2 separate regions of the Homo sapiens genome follow, and region 2 is linked to region 1. Evidence: fine-mapped expression QTL. A gene starts in region 1. The other region holds a variant in brackets. All regions are shown on one strand. Distances are from middle to middle. Region 1 holds the start of CDH13 (cadherin 13). Region 2 overlaps CDH13 (cadherin 13).

Region 1 (2,905 bases):
GGGAGCGGGCTCAGCAGCCGGGCACTTGAATCTCCCCTGGTACTATCACCCATCACTGCATTTCTGAGATGTTAGCCCATTTCCAAAGTCTAAACCCAACATTGCTCTAACAGTGGTCTCCCTTAGAAGTCTGCACCAGTCTCCCCATCCCAGACAGTCCCTACCTGGGAACCCAACTCCCTTCCCCTGCCTTTCACCCGCAAACTCTCACCTGAGCCTCTACCCCGGCCAGGAACTCAACACTCATTCCTAGCACCCTGAGGCACTCCCTGTCTCTTTCCCTCCTTACTCTGCCCGGCCCTGCCCTGCCCTGGCTCTTATCCACCCACTTGCAGGCTGCCAGCTCACTCCAAGTCCCAACGCCTGCCAGAGAGGCGATGGGGGACTGGATCGGGGTGCTCTCCGAAACCACAGGCCCCTGAGCAGCGCAGGGCGTGCCCCCCGCAGCGGCCAGCACCCCAGGCCTGGCCTCGGAGCGCTGCTTTCCTGCACTCAAACTTCCCGAAATCTCTGAGGTGCAGAGGTGACTGCAGGCGGACCGCATCTCCCTCGCCCCCTCTCCTGGTTGGCGTGCCCTTCCCTCGCGCCGTGGCGCTCTGAGGGTTAACAAGCAGCTGCAGCCCGGGTGGGCAAGGCTTGAACTTTTCTCTGCGCTCCGCTCCCGCTCAGGGAAGGCAGCAGAGGCGGCAGCCCGGGATCTGGCCGGAGCTCCAGCTGGCTGGACAATAGGGGTGCGGGGGGCTGGGGCCTGCGCCCTGGCGGGGGACACGCTCCGGCCCTTTCGGGCCCGGGGTCTGGGAGCAAAAGGACCCCGATGCGGGTGCGGCCGGCGCCGGCGCCTTTGAGCGACAGCAGCAGCCGGGCTGAGGCTCTCTGCTGCCCCGAGGCGCCTTCCAGCGGGCAGCCGGGCTGTACCAGGGGGCCCGGGCGCCCTGGGAAGTCGGTGGTGCCTGCTCGGCCTCTCCAGCCCCGCATCCCGCAATCCGGACCCGAGCAGCGCTTCGGCCGCTGGGCGTTGGGCTGGGGAAAACCGCGGCTCGTTGGAGTCGCCTCTAACTGAGTCTTTCTCCAATGCACCGAGCCTCCGGAGGAGGGAACCAAAGTTACCCCACTTGATGTGGGCGAGAATGTCGCCCCTGCTAGCAAAAAAGGACTGGGAGCTCTCTCCTCCTCCCGTTAACGAACGTACACACACACACACACACACACACACACACACACACACACACACGCACGCCAGAGTGGGAGCCTGTGTGTGGGGGGTGCCTAGGATCTCTGGGCTCGGAATGACCTCCCTACCGAGCCCCGATCTGTCTTCGCCGCCGCGACCGGAGGCCCCGACCCCCCGAAAGCCCCCTCACCCTGCCCGTGCCGGGCGATCCGAATGCAGAAACGGGGCGCAGAGCGCGCCCGGCAGCCCCTCTTCCCTACCTGGGACAGGAGAACGCACAGAACGAGCGGAGTTCTCGGCTGCATTTTGTCCGACTAGAAGCGCCCGGCGGCGTTTTCATTCATGCACGCGGCTGCACTGAGCATATTTTCCGTGGGAGCCAGGCTTTGAGGAGAGGCTCTGCCTCGCCAGCCAGCCAACTTCCCAAATAGATCAGCAGCAGCATCACGAAAGCATTGGGTAGAGGCTGATGACCAGGACCAATGGCTTTACAAGACGGATTCCTTCCTAACGCTCCCTCGTTTTGCATGGCAGATACGGGGTGAGCACCTCGCGAGGAGCGAGCCCCGCGGAGGTGGCATCCCATTTGCTTCTTTGGACTGTTGGGGCTCAGCCTCACAAATCACGCTGGGCAATGCCAGCTGATTCCACTTTTCCAGAGAATGGAATTGCACGGGGGACTGGCGGCCACTTCCAGCCTAGTGCAAAAAGATTCTCTTTATTAAAATGTTAATAAGATCCACTCTATTTCCAATAAATCAGATAAAATGGCCCCAGCAGTTCCAGCCCTTTCTACGCCTGGCAAGGCTTGGCAGTGGATTTTTTTTTTCTTTTTTCCTTTTTTCCCCCCACTGTGGCCCAAGTCATGATGGTGTTTGGTGCTTCCCTGCCATCTCACAAATCACAAAGATGACAGATCAATTCGAGCTTGCAGAAAAAATTCCATTAAGGGGCAATAGATTTTATTAACTGCTCAGGTGAGAGTCTGACTAGCCACCTACTCCTCAAATGTGCATCTGGCACCAAAGCTGGGATCTGGATCGGAAGGAACTTCTTTTTGTATATGGATGTTACCTTTCAGAAGCTCTGAACTACCTCCAGGTACTCAGAACAGCAGTAGTCACTGCTTAAGGGATTTTATAAATGGGGGGCTTTGGGACTGAGGGTAAGAGGGACATCTAGGTCTGCCTTCCCTAATAGGAATCTAAGAAAATGCAGGGAAGACCTTACTGTATCATTTCCATGCAGCCTTCCCTTAGAAAGAATTTAAGGTGTTTTACAATAAAGGACATTTGTGCAATAGAATTTATGAACCAAAATAGAAAATCTGGGCCAGAAGGAAAAGTTCAGCAAACTGAAATGACAAGCCCAAATTCTAATGTATTTGCTCTGATTTGGATAAGAGCTTCCTGATAGCCAAAGCAATAAAAGAAACATAAGTTACATAGTTTTGTTGTAGAAACATGCATACAATGTCTTTCAGCATTATTTTCCATGGGCTAAATACCGGAATAAATGCATTATGTAACACGTAACATAGCAGGACACTGAGCAATGGACCATGCCAAGATCCAGTGGATGGGGATGTATTTCTAGCATCTGGCACAGGGCCTGGAACATGGAGACAGCAATTAGTGTGTGTTAAAGAAATAGATGGCTAGACTCAATCAAGATGCAGCAGAAGGCAGGGAGGGGCAAGGAGTCTGGAGCCACATTGTCTAGGCACAGCCCCCG
Region 2 (2,905 bases), 430 kb before region 1:
GAAAATCAGCTTTTTGAGGAGTTGGGAATTTTTGAAGCCATAGAGCTTTTGGGTTATGAGACGTAAAAGTAGGCCGGGTGCGGTGGCTCACGTTTGTAATCCCAGCAATTTGGGAGGCCGAGGCTTGCGGATCACAAGGTCAGGAGATCAAGACCACCCTGGCTAACACGGTGAAACCCCGTCTCTACTCTAAATACAAAAATATTAGCTGGGTGTGCTGGCGGGCACCTGTAGTCCCAGCTACTCGGGAGGCTGAGGCAGGAGAATGGCGAGAACCAGGAGGTGGAGTTTGCAGTGAGCCAAGATCCTGCCACTGCACTCCAGCCTGGGTGACAGAGCGAGACTCCTTCTAAAAAAAAAAAAAAAAAAAACAAACAAAAAAAAAAACAAAGGCAAAAGTCTGGATTAAGAAAGTTAGTGATACAGGGAGGTTTGAGGGATAAGCACCCTGTCTTTAAGCTCTATTGCAGATGTGATGTGTGTCATGGAACCAGAAAGTCAGCCTGCTAGCCTCAGTTTTCTCCTGACTGACTTGTCATGCAACAGCCTGGCTCTACCCAGATTGGTGGCCAAACCGTCTTGTGCCTGCTCTGAATGATGGAATCTCCGAAGAGTTCAATCTCTCATAAGAAACCTAGGCCATGGCAGACACCCGAGCGCCAGTGTTACATCCTTGCAGTCACCTCTGATTTCAGCAGCAGCTGCACTGGACAGTTCTTTTTGAGCACACACTCACCTGGCTCTCCCAGAGTTCAACCTAAGCTTACATGACTGCAAATCATCCTGCCCCAGATCTCTGACACATACAGGAACTTGTTCTAAACAGAAGGCAGTTAACACCCGCTCTCCCTGCTCCCAGGCAACTCTCAATCCATGGACAGTAGGGAGACTAGGAAAAAAGGCTCCAGTCCCTCTATTTTTCAGGTGGATGACTCTGAGAATTCTGAAAAGCATTTCATAGGGTTCCCAGAGGATCTGGGAGAATTGAAGAAATGAAGCCCCTGTGTACAGAAGCAACCTCAGAAATGCTCTTTTTTGATTGGCCTCCTTCCTCTTCTCAATGTCCCCATGAACTCACTTCTGCTTCCTGGGACCACCTCTCAGATCAAGTTCCTGCACCTGACCACTTGTCCTGGGCTTTTCTTCCCGGGAATCTCCAACTAAGGCAGATACAGTAAAACCGGGACATCCATCTTTGAATGAGAATGGATTAGATTTGCACATAACAAGAGGTTCCACCAGTTAAGAAGATTAAAAAAAGCAAAGCAAAGCAAGAAAATATCCTTGCAAAGCCTTGTTAGAGTCCTGGAAGAGAGATAATCTCATCACCAGATAGTTTCTGTGAGGTCAGCGTGTGTCAGCAGTAATTCTTTCTCTCAGACTGCACGTTTGTTTTTAAGACCATCCCAGATGCTGACTTCAAAAGCTTTCTAGTTTGTAATGCACTACATAAGACTCTTCTGTTTTCTTTCCTAAATATTTAGTTCTATTTACACAGGAGACACTTACACCACAACATCAGTATGGGAACATCATTAATGTTTTCTTCCTGTGTGGTCAGGGGAGCTCAGGAGTGGAGATTGGCCCCTAAAGTCCAGCCCTCACCAGCTATGCCATCTCTTGGCAACATGGTTGGAATTTGGACAAGAGCATTTGTTAGAATAAACGACGCCCCTGTCATCAGTGAGGTCACAAGAATGCATCTGTTGGGAAAAGGGGAAATGAATTATTTGGTA[C/T]CCCCATGTTGAAACATAGGAACACCAAACCGCCAGAGAAGAACAAACACTTTTCTTGAAGAATTGGCCAGCGGCACACGCAGAAAACCCCACTTGAACAAAACGTGGAGGCGCTGCTACCTGGGCCTCTTTATTTGATGAGTGCAGCGAAATCCAGTTTTTCCCCAGTAACCAACAAAGATGAGAATAGAAAAAGCTTCTGAGAGTTCTGCCATCTCCCCTCACAAAGGAGAGGGGCTAAGGTCACACCCCAAGCCCGATAAAAGACGTAACTCATGAAGTTCAACAAACTAACTTTGTATTTAGAGCTAAAGAATGACATTTAACGATTTATATTTTTAAGAATATAGTGAAGATTTCATAGTTTTAGAAGTAAATATTCTTACTTTTGAAAGTAAAGTTGCTGTGAGTCATGATAATCCAAGACATGATTATCTTTGTTTTATTTTATTTTTTTAAAAAATATCATTTGTAAGACATTTCCCCGACCCCATTTTAATGCCTTCAAAATTAGGGAGGAACCTTACCATTGATGTTAAGGAATTACTGTGTGCAGGTTTAAGCGTCAGCATTTTTCTTTCTTAGTACCATAAAAAATACAAGTGTGCTGGAAGCACACTCTGGTCTTAACATCTACCCTCACCCCTTTTCTGGAGTGGGAGGTGATCTTATCTTAGACGGTTTAAAATTAGTATTGTCAAGTCTTAAGAATATTCAAGACAGCTCAGGTCAAAGGGAATGGCCAGGAAGAAAGGCTAGAAACTGGTTTATAGATGGTTTTGTGTGTCATGCTAAGGATTTAGCCTTACAGCCTCAGTGGTGAGCCTTTTTTTTTTTTTAACAATAGAAAGTGGCAGTAAAAGATACTTGCTAACTCAATAAAAGCGGGAGTCATCCAATTACTACTTTTGAAAAAAACTTACTTTTAACTTTCTAATTAAAGCATAACATGTATCATTCATATATTAAACTGCAAAAGTGTAAGTGTACAGTTTGGTGAATTTTTTTTGAGTGAACACACCTATGTCACCACCATAAAGATGAAGACATACAACTCTGTCATGATCTCAGAAACCTCCCTCAGGCCCCTTCCAGTCATCACCTTTTCAAAGGTAACCACAAGTATTAGTCTGTTCTCAGGTTGCTAATAAAGACATACCTGAGACTGG

Evidence for each region.
Region 2: its variant is fine-mapped to the expression of CDH13 in testis (GTEx, PIP 0.98).

What each region holds. Positions count from the first base shown.
Region 1 is chr16:82,625,664-82,628,568 of GRCh38, reverse strand. It overlaps CDH13 (cadherin 13), which reads right to left and starts at 1,600. Exons shown (of 14, transcript NM_001257.5): 1 at 1,432-1,600. The coding sequence starts at 1,476.
Region 2 is chr16:83,057,260-83,060,164 of GRCh38, reverse strand. All of the region lies in intron 3 of CDH13 (cadherin 13), which reads right to left. Among named protein-coding and RNA genes, the nearest start is that of CDH13-AS1, 340 kb to the left of the region's middle. The variant C/T (reference allele first, on the strand shown) is at 1,737.